2 separate regions of the Homo sapiens genome follow, and region 2 is linked to region 1. Evidence: fine-mapped expression QTL. Tissue or cell type: whole blood. Region 1 holds a variant in brackets; the other region holds the start of a gene. All regions are shown on one strand. Distances are from middle to middle.

What was found. PIP is the estimated chance that this variant, and not a neighbour inherited with it, causes the effect.
Region 2: COLGALT1 starts here. The variant in region 1 is fine-mapped to the expression of COLGALT1 in whole blood (TOPMed, PIP above 0.99).

The regions. Positions count from the first base shown.
Region 1 is chr19:17,574,184-17,582,357 of GRCh38, forward strand. It overlaps COLGALT1 (collagen beta(1-O)galactosyltransferase 1), which reads left to right. Exons shown (of 12, transcript NM_024656.4): 7 at 3,012-3,088; 8 at 3,178-3,284; 9 at 3,774-3,906; 10 at 5,299-5,426; 11 at 6,516-6,722; 12 at 6,994-8,174. The coding sequence ends at 7,261. Among named protein-coding and RNA genes, the nearest start is that of COLGALT1, 23 kb to the left of the region's middle. RefSeq lists enhancers at 5,713-5,922, 5,757-6,051. The variant C/G (reference allele first, on the strand shown) is at 4,750.
Region 2 is chr19:17,552,104-17,560,277 of GRCh38, forward strand. COLGALT1 (collagen beta(1-O)galactosyltransferase 1) reads left to right here and starts at 3,546. Exons shown (of 12, transcript NM_024656.4): 1 at 3,546-3,870; 2 at 7,208-7,318. The coding sequence starts at 3,611. It overlaps NIBAN3 (niban apoptosis regulator 3), which reads left to right. Exons shown (of 15, transcript NM_001321827.2): 15 at 1-1,537. RefSeq lists a silencer at 3,624-3,713.

The DNA.
Region 1 (8,174 bases):
TGCGTAGATGGAGACTGGGTGGGAGGGGTGAGGCCTCTGTCCCGGGGCTCAGTTTCCCCAGCCTTACCGATTTCTGAACGAGTCTATCTGCGGCTCCCCCTGGTGGCTCAAGATGGAATAGCACCCTGCCCTTTGTGTTTTGGGGAGACTTTTTTTTTTTTTTTGAGACGGTGTCTCACTTTGTCACCCAGGCTGGAATGCAGTGGCGCATTCTGGGCTCACTTGAAACCTCCGCCTCCTGGGTTCAAGCGATTCCCCTGCCTCAGCCTCCCGAGTAGTTGGGATTACAGGTACCTGCCACCACACCTGGCAAATTTTGTATTTTTAGTAGAGACGGGGTTTCACCATGTTAGCCAGGCTGGCCTCGAACTCCTGTCCTCAGGTGATCCACCTGCCTCGGCCTCCCAGAATGCTGGGATTACAGGCGTGTGTCACTGCGCCTGGCCTGGGGGAGACTTTTGAGTCTTTTTGAGGTGACACCTGGAGACTGCACAATCACTGGGGCAGGCCCCCCACAACACCCAAGAGTGGCATACTTAGGTGTCCAGGTCCCACCCGGCTACAGTTGGGGGTGGTGGGTCTCCATTTATCACCAACTCCCATCAGAAACGGGCCTGAGAAGCGTCTCTGTGGCTACCAGAGTTTTCCCAGTTTAAGTTCTCACATATATTTGTGTTGTCATTTCCTTTTTTTGAGACAGAGTCTCGCTGTTACCCAGGCTGGAATGCAGTGGCAAAATCACAGCTCACTGCAGCCTCAACCTCCTTGACTCAAGCGATCCTTCCACCTCAGCCTCCTAAGTAGCTGAGACCACAGGTGCATGCCACTACCATGCTCAGCTAATTTGTTAATTTAGGTTTTTGGTTTTTTTGGTTTTTATTTTTTTGAGATGGAGTCTTGCACTGTCGCCTGGGCTGGAGTGCAATGGTGCGATCTTGGCTCACTGCAACCTCCGCCTCCCAGGTTCAAGTGATTCTGCCCCACCTTCCCAAGTAGCTGAGTTTAACAGGCGCTTGCCACCACGCCTGGCTAATTTTTTGTATTTTTATTTTTATTATTTTTTGTTTGTTTGTTTTTTTTGAGACGGAGTCTCGCTCTGTCTCCCAGGCTGGAGTGCAGTGGCCCGATCTCGGCTCACTGCAAGCTCCGCTTCCTGGGTTCACGCCATTCTCCTGCCTCAGCCTCCCGAGTAGCTGGGACTACAGGCGCCTGCTACCACATCCGGCTAATTTTTTGTATTTTTATTGGAGATGGGGTTTCACTGTGTTAACCTGGATGGCCTCGATCTCCTGACCTTGTGAGCCACCTGCCTCGGCCTCCCAAAGTGCTGGGATTACAGGCATGAGCCACTGCGCCCAGCTAGTTTTTTGTATTTTTAGTGGGGACAGGGTTTCAGTATGTTGGCCAGGCTGGTCTCGAACTCCTGACCTCATGATCTGCCCACCTCAGCCTCCCAAAGTGCTGGGATTACAGGCATGAACCACTGTGCCCGGCCTTCTTTTTTGCTTTTTTTGGAGATGGAGTCTCTGTCACCCAGGCTGGAGTGCAGTGTCACCATCATAGCTCGCTGCAGCCTTGAACTCCTGGGCAATCCTTCTGCCTCAGCCTCCCAAGGAGCTACAGATTTCCCCTTTTAAAAGCACACAAGCCATGTGGATTAGGGCCCACCCTAATGACCTCATTTTAACTCGATGACCTCTGTACACAACCCTGTGTCCAAATAGGATCATATCCTGGGGTACTGGTGGTTGGCACTGGGGAGACACAGTTCACCCCATGACATAGTGCATGATCTCATGACATCTCTTTGTGAAACCTCTCAGTGGCTTATTGGCCCATTTTATAGATGAGGAAAGCTGAGGCCCAGGCCAATCAAGAATATACAGCATGCCATCATTTCTTGGTTCATTCTACAAGCAATTACTGAGTGCCTGCTGTGTGCCAAGCCCCTGTGTTGGGCACTAGGGGCCCAGTGTGAGCAGACATACCTGGTGTCCTTCCCAAAGGGCTCACAACAGACAGGCACAGGGCCAGGGGGTTAGGGCAGCAAGGATGCGAGCTTTGGTGGTGCAAGTCCAGGTGCTGCTGGGGCCCAGAGGAGGTGCCTGGCTCAGCCTAGGGAGGTGGGAGTGGGGAGGGTGACCCCCATGCCCAGGGCATCATAGCTGAGAAGTAACGTTACAGAGCAGGGAAAGGAAGGGTATTTCAAGCAGGGATCCAGCATGTGCAAAGGCCCTGAGGTAGGAATGGGGGTTCTTTGGGTTGGCAGGGGCATAGAGGTGGGGCTGGGGGGTAGAGTGAAGCTGGAGCATGGGGCGTGGCCAGGGCTTAGAGGCAGGGTTGGGGGCGGAGTGAAGCTGGAGCCCAGGGCGTGGCCACGGCTGAGAGTCGGGGCTGGGAGCAGGGTGAAGCTGGGGCCTGGGGTGTGACCAGGACTTAGAAGCGGGGCTGGGGGTCGGAGCGAAGCTGTTGCATGGCCAGGGTTTAAAGGTGGGGCTGGGGGGGTGCAGGGTGAAGTTGGAGCCTGGGGCATGGCCAGGGCTTAGAGGCAAGGCTGGGGGAGGCTGTGGGGTGAAGCTGGGGCCTGGGGCGTGGCCAGGGCTGAGTGGTGCGGCTGGGGGGCAGGTTGAAGCTGTAGCCTGGGGTGTGGCCAGGGCTTAGAGGCGGGGCTAAGGGCAGGGTGAGGCTGGGACCTGGGGCGAGTCCAGGGTTGAGTAGCGGGGCCTTGGGCGCGGTGAAGCTGGGGCCTGGGGTGTGGCCAGGGCTGAGAGGCAGGACTGGGGGCGGGGTGAAGCTGGGGCCTGGGGTGTGGCCAGGGCTTTGGGCTGCTGTGCAGGGTTCAAATGACATGGGAGGGGCTCCTAGAGGGCAGCGCTGATGTGGGCGGAGCCAGGTCGACTTTGTGGGCCGAGCCAGTCTGACTGGGAGCCATGGAGTGGGTGGGGAAAGCGTGTTGGAGAGAGGCTGGAGGCTCCTTACCCCAGCGACTCCTCAACGTCTGTGCCCCACAGTGAAGCACCCGCCCGCAGAGCCCTCCCGCTTCATCTCGGCTCCCACCAAGACACCGGACAAGATGGGCTTCGACGAGGTGAGCTGGGCCTTCCCTGGAGGCGGGGCGGGGGCTGGAGGGCCCTTGTTTGCAGGGGCTGATCTGGCTGGGGACTCTCCGGGCTGCAGGTCTTCATGATCAACCTGAGGCGGCGGCAGGACCGGCGGGAGCGCATGCTGCGGGCGCTGCAGGCACAGGAGATCGAGTGCCGGCTGGTGGAGGCCGTGGACGGCAAGTGAGTCCGAGGCCTGGGGGTGGGGGGGCGGGTCCGCACGTGGATGTGGGTGTAGACCTCGCTGGTAGACGGCAAGTGATTCAGATGGGGGCGGGCGTGGTGTCCAAACAGATGTAGACCTCGTCAGTGGGCGTCCTGAAGGGGAAGTGAATGGGACCCTGGGGAAGGGGCAGATCCTCACAGTTGTAGACCATGGAAGGCAAGTGAGTCCTGACCCAGGGGAATGGGTAGGTTTGCATGCTGCCAGTGTAGACTGGTGGGGACTGTGGAGGGGTAAGTCAGTCAGACCCCAGGAGAGGAGGAGAGCAGGTTTGCCCGCGAGTGTATACCATGTGCAGGTGAGTGAGGCCCCATGTGCCCGGAAGGGGTGCCAGTGCTACAAGAGGTGGACCAGCTGCTCAACGCCGCAGGGGGTGGTGGAATGGCCGGGGATGGCAGAATGGCAGGCAGGGTGAACCTTCTTCGTGACCCTCTCCTCCTCCTCTCCAGAGCCATGAACACCAGCCAGGTGGAGGCGCTGGGGATCCAGATGCTGCCTGGCTACCGGGACCCCTACCACGGCCGGCCCCTCACCAAGGGTGAGCTGGGCTGCTTCCTGAGCCACTACAACATCTGGAAGGAGGTGTGTCCTGAGTGATGGGCGGGGCCAGAGTTATGACTCTAGATCTCATCGGAGATTTGGACGGGAAAGGGGTTGAAAGAGTTCCCCAAAGCCCCGGCTAGGCATCCAGCCTCAGCCATGGGACCCATGGCCTCTCTTTAGTGAATGATGCGCCACACCAGCTGTATCACCCCCAGGTGTACCTGCCATCCTTCCATTGCGCAAATGTGGAAACTGAGCCTGGGGGTAGGGGTGAGCCCTTTTGAGCAGCAGGTGGTGTCTGGGGCCTGGGACCTGTAAACAAATCCTCATTACTCCCAGCCTGGTCTCTGTGCTTGATGTTTAGTACTAGAAGTCATGGCCACAGAGCCACTTTAAACCAGCACCTGCCCAGTGCTGCTGGGGGCACTCACCAGCCCAGGCATCCTCATCCACCCTCAGAGGGAGAGGCTGTGATTGGAGGAGGGTGTCTGACTAGGCTTCGAACTTGGGCCATCAGGGCCGGGCATGGTGGCGCACACCTGTGGTCCCAACTATTTGGGAGGCTAAAGTGGGAGAGTGGCTTGAGCCCAGGAGTTAAGGCTGCAGTCAGCCAAGATCGTGCCACTGCACTGCAGACTGGACAGCAGAGCAAAACCGTGTCTCAGAAAAAAGAAAAATGGCTGGGCGTGGTGGCTCATGCCTGTAATCTCAGCACTTTGGGAGGCCGAGGCAGGCGGATCACCTTAGGTCAGGAGTTCAAGACCAGCCTGGCCAACATGGTGAAACCTAGACTCTACTAAAAATACAAAAATTATCTGGGTGTGGTGGTGGGCACCTGTAATCCCTCTACTTGGGAGACTGAGGCAGGAGAATCACTTGAAC[C/G]CAGGAGGCAGAGGTTGCAGTGGGCTGAAATCATGCCATTGCACTCCAGCCTGGGCGACAAGAGTGACACTCCATCTCAAAAAAAGAAAAATAAAATCCGGGCGTAGTGGCACATGCCTGTAATCCCAGCTGCTCAGGAGGCTGAGGCAGAATTACTTGAACCTGGGAGGCGGAGGTTGCAGTTGAGATCGTTCCACTGCACTCCAGCCTGGGCGACAGGGCGAGACTCCGTCTCAAAAAAAAAAAAAAAGAAAAAGAAAAGAAAAACTTGTTATCGAATGTGAAGCCAAATGGGGGTGTGCGGCTGCAAGGCGGGAGGTGCATGAGGCGTGGGCATTTGAGGGGCTGGGAGGCCTTTCTCTTCTGAGATCCATTATGGACGGCAGAGGGCAGAGGTTTGGATGTCCAGATGTCCCTGGAGCTAGGAGAGGCAGGGAGATGCACTGGCTTCTCTACGGGTCTTTCAAACCTTCTCAAAGCAAAGCTCTGTGCTTTAGGGTCAGGCCTGGCCTTGGCCTCCCTGTGATGTGGCGGGGCTTCCTCCCTCAGGTGGTGGACCGGGGGCTGCAGAAATCGCTTGTGTTTGAGGATGACCTGCGTTTTGAGATCTTCTTCAAGAGACGTCTGATGAACCTCATGCGGGATGTGGAGCGGGAGGGCCTGGACTGGGACCTCATGTGAGTGGGGGTCTGAGGATGGGGTGAAGCTGGGGCCTGGGGCAAGGCCAGGACTTAGAGGTGGGGGTGGGGGCAGGGTGGAGCTGGGACCTGGGGATGGGTCATGGCTTAGAGGCGGGGCTTGAAGGTGGGGTGGAACTGGAGCCTAGGTACATGGCCAGGGCTTAGAGGTGGGGCTGGGAGGCGGAGTGGAGCTGAATCCTACGGGCGTGGCCACAGCGCTGCAGCTGAGCCTAGAGCCTGTATGTCTGGGTGTGGTCAGGGTGGCAGGCGTGGCCAACCCTTGGAAGCGTAGCAGGAGGGCTCACGTGGTTCCTGGGCCTGAAGGCACTGTCAGGGCTGTAGCCTATAGGGAAGGGCGTTGGAAGGATCACCCAGAACTCAAGGGACCTGGCCGGAAGCCTGCAGGCTTGGTCAAGGCTTAGAGACTTGACTGAGGCCTGTGGAGGTGGATGTGGCTAAAATTTGACCGGGCAGCCTGTGGGCGTGGCTGAAGAGCATGGGGGTGTGGTCAGAGCTGGAGGTGTGGCCGAAGAGTGTGGGGGCGTGGCCAGGGCGCCTGGTCTTAGACAAGCCCCTGGATGGGAGTGCCACCAACATGTTTCCAGCACTGGAGCCGTCCTTCTCTTCTGTAAGTGGGCTGGTTTGTCCTCTCCCTTCCTCCATCTCTTTTTTCCCTTCCATGTGCAGTGCCCTAATCTGCATTCTGGGAACACTGCCCCATGTGAATAGTAACTGCACCCCTCCATTCCTGACTGCCCCCCCATCAGGGCACCTCGCCCACCTCCACCCCCACTGTCCTCTGAACTCAGAGCAGCTTCAGCCTCAGAGAACGTCTGCGTGATCCTGCTCTCCCCAGCTCCAGATCCTCCATGGCTCCCTCACGCCCTTTGGAAAAACTCACTCTTCTCCCCCATGACCGCCAGACCCCTGGGCTCCTGCATTCACTCCATCCAGTCACAGAGCTCTGCAAACATGCTGAGCCTGCTCCCATCCCAGGACCTGACGGGGTAACTAGATCCCTGGCTTTCTGGGCAAGCTCCCTCCGGAGGGCGGGAGGAGAGTGACAGGCCCGATCTTGCACCCCAGCTATGTGGGCCGGAAGCGGATGCAGGTGGAGCACCCCGAGAAGGCTGTGCCTCGCGTGAGGAACCTGGTGGAGGCCGACTATTCCTACTGGACCCTGGCCTACGTGATCTCCCTGCAAGGCGCCCGCAAACTGCTGGCTGCTGAGCCGCTCTCCAAGATGCTGCCTGTGGACGAGTTCCTGCCCGTCATGTTCGACAAACACCCAGTGTGAGAGGGGCAGGCGGCTGCTGGGCTGGGGTTTCACGGTGGGTCTGTCCTGGGAGAATGGGGATGTGAGACTCACGGCCTCCGAGAAGATGTCTCTTCTTTTGCCTACTTCTCCCTCCGTTTGCCCCCTCGCAGATCTGTCTCCATTTGTATCCCCTGCACACTTACGTTTTAATCTGTCCCCGCTGACTTCTTCACCCCCAATTTTTCCTCCAGCTGTCCCGTCCCCTGAAGCCATTGCTGCCCCTCACTCCCCTCCTCCTCCCCCCAGGTCCGAGTACAAGGCCCACTTCTCCCTCCGCAACCTGCATGCCTTCTCTGTGGAGCCGCTGCTCATCTACCCCACACACTACACAGGAGACGATGGCTATGTGAGTGACACCGAGACCTCAGTCGTATGGAACAATGAGCACGTCAAGACCGACTGGGACCGCGCCAAGTCCCAGAAGATGCGGGAGCAGCAGGCACTGAGCCGTGAGGCCAAGAACTCGGACGTGCTCCAGTCCCCACTGGACAGTGCTGCCCGGGATGAACTCTGAGGGGTAGCAGCCAGAAAGCCAAAGCAGCCATCGGTGGCCCAGGCTCCACGTGCTTACTGAGGACATCAGGTCCACCTCTGGACCCCTTGGCAGGCCACAGAGGGCTCTCGTGTGGGGTGGTGTCCAGCCAGCTCTTGCTAAGCAATCACGTGCACACAGGCAGCATTAATGGAGTGCCTACTGCATGCCAGCAACAGGGCTTGGCCCTGGGGAATTGGGAGGAACCAAGCCCTCTTCATCTGTTCATGTGCCCAGCATTTATTAAGCACCTGCTGTATGCAAGGTTCCCATGTTACGGCAGTGAATGAGGCATAATTGTTCCCTCCATCAGCGATTGATTCAGTCATCAAGCAGTTACTGATCAGATTAAGAATCAGGCACTAGTGATACACATTCATTTTTAAAATTCATTCAAGGATTTATTGAGTGCCTACTGTGTGTTGGGTGCCATTCCAGGCTCTGGGATTTTTTTTTTTTTTTTTTTAAGAGTAGAGTCTGTCTCTGTCACCCAGGCTGGAGTGCAGTGGTGTGACGGCTCACTGCAGCCTGCGCCTCCCAGCGTCCAGCAATTCTTGTTTCTCGGCCTCCCAAGTAGCTGGGACTATAGGTGCGTGCCATCACATCTGGCTAGTTTTTGTATTTTTAGTAGAGACGGGGTTTCACCATGTTGGCCAGGCTGGTCTCGAACTCCTGACCTCAAGTGATCTGCCCGCCTTGGCCACCCAAAGTGCTAGGGTTACAGGCATGAGCCACTGTGCCCAGCCCAGGCTCTGGGAATATTGAGATAAATAAGATGCTTCTATCCATTTATTCAAGCACATATTGGTCACCTACTGTGTGCCTGGCACTCATGTCACAAAGATAAGTTCCTGATTCGGTACACTTACTGAGCACCTGCTGTGTGCAGGGAGCT
Region 2 (8,174 bases), 22 kb before region 1:
AGTCTTGCTCTGTCACCCGGGCTGGAGTGCAGTGGCAGGATCTCGGCTCACTGCAACCTCCGCCTCCCGGGTTCAAGCGATTCTCCTGCCTCAGCCTCCCGAGTAGCTGAGATTTCAGGCACCCGCCACCATGCCTGGTTAATTTTTGTGTTTTTAGTAGAGATGGGGTTTCACCATGTTGGCCAGGCTGGTCTCGAACTCCTGTCCTTAAGTGATCTGCCCCCCTCAGCCTCCCAAAGTGCTGGGATTACAGGTGTGAGCCACCACACGTGGCCTAATTTTTTTTTTTTAAATAATAGAGACAAGGTCTCGCTATGCTGCCCAGGCTGATCTCAAACTCCTGGACTCAAGCAATCCTCCTGCCTTGGCCTCCCAAAGTGCTAGGATTATAGGAGTGATCCACTATGTCCAGCCTCCAAATCCTTTCTAAACACTAGGACTTTTCATGAAAAGAAAAAAGCTATGCCAGTTAGACACACACAGAAATCTCATGATTTTATTTTGAATTTCTTTGACTAAATTGAACTTACAAATAAGTTTATTATGGCCAGGCGTGGCAGTGCACACCTGTAATCCCAGCACTTTGGGAGGCTGAGGCGGGCAGATCACTTGAGCTCAGGAGTTCAAGACCAGCCTGGCGAACATAGTGAGACCTCATCTCTACAAAAAATACAAAATTAGCGGCCGGGAGTGGTGGCTCACGCCTGTCATCCCAGCACTTTGGGAGGCTGAGACAGGTGGATTGCTTGAGCCAAGGAGTTTTGAGGCCAGCTTGGGCAATGTGGTGAAACCTGTCTCTACTAAAAAATAAAATAAATAAATAAATAAATAAATAAATAAATAAATAAATAAAATTTAAAAGAAGCTGGGCTGAGATGGGAGATTTACCTGAGCCTGGGAACTCAAGGCTGCAGTGAGTGGTGATTGCACCACTGCACTCCAGCCTGGGTGATGGGAGTGAGACCCTGTCTCAAAAAACAAAATCCAAATATGTTGATTAGCCATTTACATGTTTGTAGTTTTTTTTTTTTTAATTTCAGTGAATTGCCTGTTCATAGCTTTTTTCTACTTTTCAGGAGTGTTTGCATTTTTCTTATTGATATCTAATAACTCTTTATATCTGAAGGATATGAACGCTTTGTGATACAGGTTACAGATTTTGGGGTTTTTTTCTCCGCTTGCTGTGAGCCTTTTGGGTTTGTTTCCTAGCTCCAAATCTTAACTTGGTGTCAAGTTTCCTGGCTGGGAGACAAGCTTTTACCGACTTCCTCTGCTTGCCAGCAAAGTCATCTGCTAACTGGATATTGGCAGCTTCTCTGCTGTCTTGCAGCTGCTTCCGGAGTGGGTTCCACAGGGATTCCCGTGTGTTCTTGGTTCAGCTTGCAGAGGGACTTTCACACTCCCTGGAGACCGTTTCCTCCCATTCTGTCTGGAGTTTTCGGCCTACCCCAAGACAATGAGATATTCCTGACCTTTCCACCTATTTCCCTCCAACCCCACCTTCCGAAATACATTTGCTCAATACATTTGCACTTCATAGGCTTCTTTAGCTGTCTTCCTTTTACCCCGGACGGGATGTAGATGTTAATTCTGGAACAATTGCAGCTACAAGAATTTGTCATCCTGCCCCTTTTGAGAAAAACATTGTTTGCCCTTGGGTCTAAATCCTTCCAGATGGGATGGGATGTATCTTGTCACCTCCTTTTTCTTACTTAATATGAAAAGACCTTTCCTCATCAAGTCCACAGAGTGTAAATTTGTTTTTACCTTTTTTTTTTTTTTTTTGAGACGGTGTCTCACTCTGTCACCCAGGCTGGAATGCAGTGGTGCGATTTTGGCTCACTGCAACCTCCACCTCCTGGGTTCAAGTGATTCTCCTGCCTCGGCCTCCGTAGTAGCTGGGATTACAGGCGAAGCGCCACCATGACCGGCTAATTTTTTGTGTTTTTAGAAGAGATGGGGGCTTCACCATATTGACCAAGCTGGTCTCGAACTCCTGACCTCAAGTGATCCGCCTGCCTCAGCCTCCCAAAATGCTGGGATTACAGGCGTGAGCCACTGCACCTGGCCTGTATCATTCTTAAAAATTAAGTTTTAGCGGGGCATGATGGCTCACTGGTAATCCCAGCAGTTTGGGAGGCTGAAGGGGGAGGATTACTTGAGACCAGGAGTTTGAGAACAGCCGGGGCAACATAGCGAGACTCCATCTCTACAAAAAATTTAAAAATTAGCTGGGCGTGGTTGAGTGCACTTGTAGTCCCAGCTACTTGGGAGGCTGAGGCAGGAGGATCAGTTGAGCCCAGGAGGTTGAGGCTGCAGTGAGCCATGATCATGTGATCATGCCACTGCACTCTAGCCTGAGCCACAGAGTAAGACCCTCTCTGTGAAAATAATAATAAGCTGGGCGCGGTGGCTCACGCCTGTAATCCCAGCACTTTGGGAGGCTGAGGTGGGCGGATCAGGAGGTCAGGAGTTCGAGACCAGCCTGGCCAATATGGTGAAACCCCATCTCTACTATAAACAAAAATTAGCCGGGCGTGGTGGCGCGTGCCTGTAGTCCCAGCTACTCAGGAGGCTGAAGCAGGAGAATCGCTTGAACCCGGGAGGCGGAGGTTGCAGTGAGCCGAGATCGCGCCACTGTACTCTAGCCGGGGCAATGGAGTGAGACGCTGTCTCAAAAAAAAAAAAAAAGAAAATAATAATAATAATAATAATAATGTTCAGATGTATTTTTTAAAGTTTTTATTGTTTTTAAAAATAGAGGCACGGTCTTGCTATGTTGCACCACTGCACTCCAGCCCGGGCAACAAAGCCAGACTCCGTCTCAAAAAAAAAAAAAAAAAAGTGTGATACTAAGTCAATCAATTTGAAAATGCGGCTCTAGAGTATTGGAAAACAATCCCTTGACAGCGTTTCCATGAAAACATGGCCCTTGTCTCTGGAAGAGCTTGTGCCCAGAACGGTCCATTATCATGCCCTGGCTCTATTTTCACGCCAACCCTATAGGGTCTCTATGATCTCATTTTATAGATGGACAGACTGAGGCTCACATATAGCAAGCCCAAGGCGGGGACTGAATGTGACGCCAGGTCTGTGGACGTCATGACCTTTATTCTCCACAACCCTCAATGACATCCCTGTGAGATCCAAAACCAGGATGGCAAAACCCACGTTGCAGCAGAGGAAACTGAGGCTAAGGTCTCTTGGGTCCCAAACCAGGTCCTAAGTAGCCAAGTCCGCCTGGTGGCACAGCCCGGGTTTTATACATGGGGAAATTGGGCGGCGCATCTGGCGGAGGTCTCAGTGGTAGGAGGCGCCTGGAGGAAGCGCGGGTTCCTAACCCTAACGCTACCCCTAACATCCCTTCCACGCGCTCCGAGCGCTATGTGCCTTTAAGATCGGTGCGGGGGCGGGGCGTCCTGGGTAGGGCTGCAGGTGACGTCACTCCGGGCCTTGGGACTCGGAGAGCGTCTGGAGGCGGGGCCTGGACTTCACGCCCGGCGCGCTCCTCCCCTTTAAGGCGCGCGGCCGGGCGGGGCCCCTATGACCCCTTTAAGGCGCGGCCAGAGTCCTCCCGCAGAAAAACGACTTAAAGGAGACGCGTGGCGCGATGGCGGCGGCCCCACGCGCGGGCCGGCGGCGCGGGCAGCCGCTCCTGGCGCTGCTGCTTCTGCTGCTGGCGCCACTGCCGCCGGGGGCCCCGCCGGGCGCCGACGCCTACTTCCCCGAGGAGCGCTGGAGCCCGGAGTCGCCCCTGCAGGCGCCGCGCGTGCTCATCGCGCTGTTGGCGCGAAACGCGGCCCACGCGTTGCCCACCACGCTGGGCGCACTCGAGCGGCTGCGGCACCCGCGGGAGCGCACGGCGCTATGGTGAGTCGAGCCCGCTGTCCCCATCAGGCGGGTCACGCGAGCCCCTGCTTGCTGTCCCCATAGGGGTGGGTCCACGCGAGCCCCTGCCCGCTGTCCTCTTCTGGGCGGGTCCGCGCGTGCTTCCTGCTCGCTACCCCCATCGGGACGGTTCTACGCATGCCCCTGCCCGCTGCCCCCATCGGGACGGGTCCACGCGTGCCCCCTGCCTGCTGTCCTCCCATGGGGCCAGACACAGCCCTCCCCACAACACAAGCGGGACCGAGTTCCTCCTGCTGGCTCCTTTGGGGTGGGCTGGGCACCGCTTCTGCCTGCTGGACCCTACTAGGGCAGCTCCGGCCTCACTAACTGGGGCTCTAACTCCCTCTGGGGCACGTACACCTCCAAAGGACGGAGCCCAGAGCCCCCACTGGGGCGTTGCCAGAGGCCACATCTAACAGCAAGCCTTTCTGTGCCGGCTGCTGCCCTTAAGCTTGAACTCAGCCTGGCTCCAGGCCCCAGTCAAACCCCTGCCCTCAGACCGGCGTGGGTGGAGTCCAGGACCAGATGGCCCAGGAGGAAGTGGATGCTTTCTTGGTAGGGAATGGGGCAGAGCTCTGAAGAAACCTTTGACTGGTGACTTCTCACTCCCTGCCTCAGTTTTCTCAAATGGAAAATGGGTCCGGGTGCAGTGGCTCACGCAGTAATCCTAGCAATTTGGGAGGCCAAGGTAAGCGGGTCACTTGAGCTCAGGAGTTCGACACCAGCCTTGCCAACATGGCAAAACCCCGTCTCTAGAAAAAAAATACAAAAATTAGCCAGGTGCGGTGGTGTGTGCCTGTAGTCCCAGCTATTCAGGAGGCTGACGCAGGAGAATCGCTTGAGCCCAGGAGTTCGAGGCTGCAGTGACCTATGATTGCACCACTGCACTCCAGCCTGGGCTACAGAGTAAGACCTGCCTCTAAAAAAAGAAAAAGAAAAGAAAATGAGCGTATTAATATAATTCTCTTTTTGGGTTTGTCTCTGAAGATTATCCAGTTAATGGATGTGGAGCCCTTGGGTCTGGCATGGGCTTGGCTCTCAGTGATTTTATTATCATGATTACTGTCATTGCTGGTGTTATTGTCAACTTAATTTATTGGGCAGAATTAGCTTTTGGCACTACGGTCAAACTAAACTCCCAAATGTCGCTTTTCCTTCCACCTGATTTCTCAGTCTGGATAATCCAAATACACAATTGGTACTTAACAAATGTTTGTTGAATGAATAATTGACTGCAGCCCACTGAAGTGGTGTGGCTCACAGGAGAAGATGAAGGCAGGGTAAGGGATTTATGAGATATACTTTGAGATATACTTTTTTTTTTCTCTCAGACGGAATCTTGCTCTGTCGCCCAGGCTGGAGTACAGTGACACGATCTCAGCTCATTGCAACCTCCGCCTCCGGGTTCAAGTGATTCTCCTGCCTCAGCCTCCCGAGTAGCTTGGGATTACAGGTGCGCACCACCATGCCTGGCTAATTTTTGTATTTTTAATAGAGTCAGGGTTTCACCATTGTGGCCAGGCTTGTGTTGATCTCCTGACCTCATGATCTGCCTGCCTCGGCCTCCCTAAGTGCTGGGATTACAGGCATGAGCCACAGCGCCCTGCTGAGATATACTTTTTTTTTTGATACAGGGTTTTACATCTGTCGCCCAGGCGGGAGTGCAGTGGTGCAATCCTAGCTCACTGCAACTTCCCCCTCCTGGGCTCAAGTGATTCTCCTGCCTCAGCTTCTTGAGTAACTGGGACTACAGGCGTATGCCACTGCGCCCAGCTAATTTTTGTATTTTTTCTAGAGATGGGGTTTTGCCCTATTGGCCAGGCTGGTCTCGAACTCCCGAGCTCAAGTGACCTGCCCACCTCGGCCTCCCAACATATTGGGATTACAGGCGTGAGCCATTGCACCCAGCTGGTTTCTGATATATACATTTCATTTTTTAATATTTTTTATTTATTTATTTTTTGAGACTGAGTCTCGCTCTCGTTGCTGAGGCTGGAGTGCAGTGGCACGATCTCGGCTCACTGCAACCTCCTCCTCCCAGGTTCAAGCGATTCTCCTGCCTCGGCCTCCTGAGTAGCTGGGATTACAGGTGCCCGCCACCACACCCAGCTAATTTTTTGTGTTTTTAGTAGAGATGGGATTTCACCATGTTGGCCAGGCTAGGCTCAAACTCCTGGCCTCAAGTGATTCACCCGCCTCGGCCTCCCAAAGTGCTGGAATTACAAGCGTGAGCCACCATGCCCGGCCTAATTTTTGTATTTTTAGTAGAGATGGGGTTTCGCCATGTTGGCCAGGCTGGTCTCAAACTCCTGACCTCAGGTGATACACCCGCCTCGGCCTCTCAAAGTGCTGGGATGACAGGCGTGAGCCACCGTGCCTGGCCTGATCTATACATTACAAAAATTGCCGTGTGCGGTGGCTCATTCCTGTCATCCCAGCACTTTGGGAGGCTGAGGCAGGTGGATCACCTGAGGTCAGGAGTTCGAGAGCAGCCTGGCCAACATGGCGAAACCCCATCTCTACTAAAAATGCAAAAATTAGCTGGGCATGGTGGTGGGCACCTGTAATCCCAGCTACTCGGGAGGCTGAGGCAGGAGAATTGCTTGGACCTGGTAGGCGGAGATTGCAGTGAACCAAGATTGTGCCACTGCACTCTAGCCTGGGTGACAGAGCAAGACTCTGTCTCAAAAGAAAAAAAAAATTAAGTGACACATATTTGTTAGTGAATGTGGTTTGCAAGATCTTAGATGCTCAGTAATAAAACAGCCAATCACTAATGGGTCTTTCCAAAATCAGCTTGTTTAATCCTTCCACTTCCCAGTAAACTGGGTCCTGTTCCCACCCCCATGTTACAGATGAGGAAACTGACATGGAAAGGGAGAAATGGGCCGGGCGCGGTGGCTCACGCTTGTTAAGTCCAGCACTTTGGGAGGCCAAGGTGGGCGGATCACGAGGTCAGGAGATCGAGACCAGCCTGGCCAACATGGTGAAACCCCGTCTCTACTAAAAATACAAAAAAATTAGCCGGGTGTGGTGGCGGGCGCCTGTAGTCCCAGCTACTTGGGAGGCTGAGACAGGAGAAGGCGTGAACCCGGGAGGCGGAGCTTGCAGTGAGCCGAGATCGCGCCACTGCACTCCAGCCTGGGCAACAGAGCGAGACTCTGTCTCAAAAAAAAACAAAGGAAAGGGAGAAGTGTCCTGTCCAGGGATACATAGCTGGTGGGAGGCCAGTTGGGGATGGTGGTCCTTGACTTGCCTCACTGCTGCCTGGTCCTGCCTCAGTCTCCCCAAGTACGCTGCCTGTCCCCTCTCCCTGCAGGGTGGCTACGGACCACAACATGGATAACACGTCAACTGTGCTGCGGGAGTGGCTGGTGGCCGTGAAGAGTTTGTACCATTCCGTGGAGTGGCGGCCAGCAGAGGAGCCCAGGTGAGCATCTTTCCCCTGCTCCTAGTCTGATTGGGCTTTGCCTCTGCTCACACACCCTCTATGGCTCCCCATTGCCCCAGAACAATTACAGGCCCTCAGTCCCTGCCTCCAGCCCAGCCAGGCAGCATTAAGCTACTCTGAGCCTCCCTCAGCTTTACAAATAGGCCATAATCCTCTTCTCAGACCTTTGCCCAAGCCGTTCCCTGTACCTAGAATTCTTTCACTCCCTTTTTCTTCTGGGGACGCCCACTGCTTTGTTCCCTGGCTCACTGACTCAGTCTTGGTCCCAGCACTGGCTTTGCTGTTTATCTACTCCCTAAAGCCCTGGGCAGCATGGACTCCCTGCCCCCACCCAGTTCCTTTCTGGGTTTTTGTTTTTTTTTTGAGACAGGGTCTCACTCCCTCACCCAGGCTGGAGTGCAGTGGAGTGAACACAGCTTACTGCAGCCTTTAACTCCTGGGCTCAAGCCATCCTCCCGCCTCAGCCTCCTGAGTAGCTGGGACTACAGGCACATGTAACCATGCCTAGCTAATGTTTTTGTATTTTTTGTAGAGATAGGGTCTCACTGTGTTGCCCAGGCTGGTCTCAAAGTGCTGGCCTCAAGCGATCCTCCCACCTCTGCCTCCCAAAGTGCTGGGATCGCAGGCGTGGGCCACTGCACTGGACCCCACTGAGCTTCCTTCCTTCCTTCCCTCCAGTGTGCCTCGGGCTTTCTTCCCTCCAGGCCTTTGCACAGGCTGTACCTCCGGCCAGGAACATTCTCCCCACTTCTCTTTCCTCGTCGTTTACTTTTTCCCATCCCTCAGATCAGCTTACACGTCCCCTCCTCCAGGAAGCTCTCTCTGAGTACCCCGA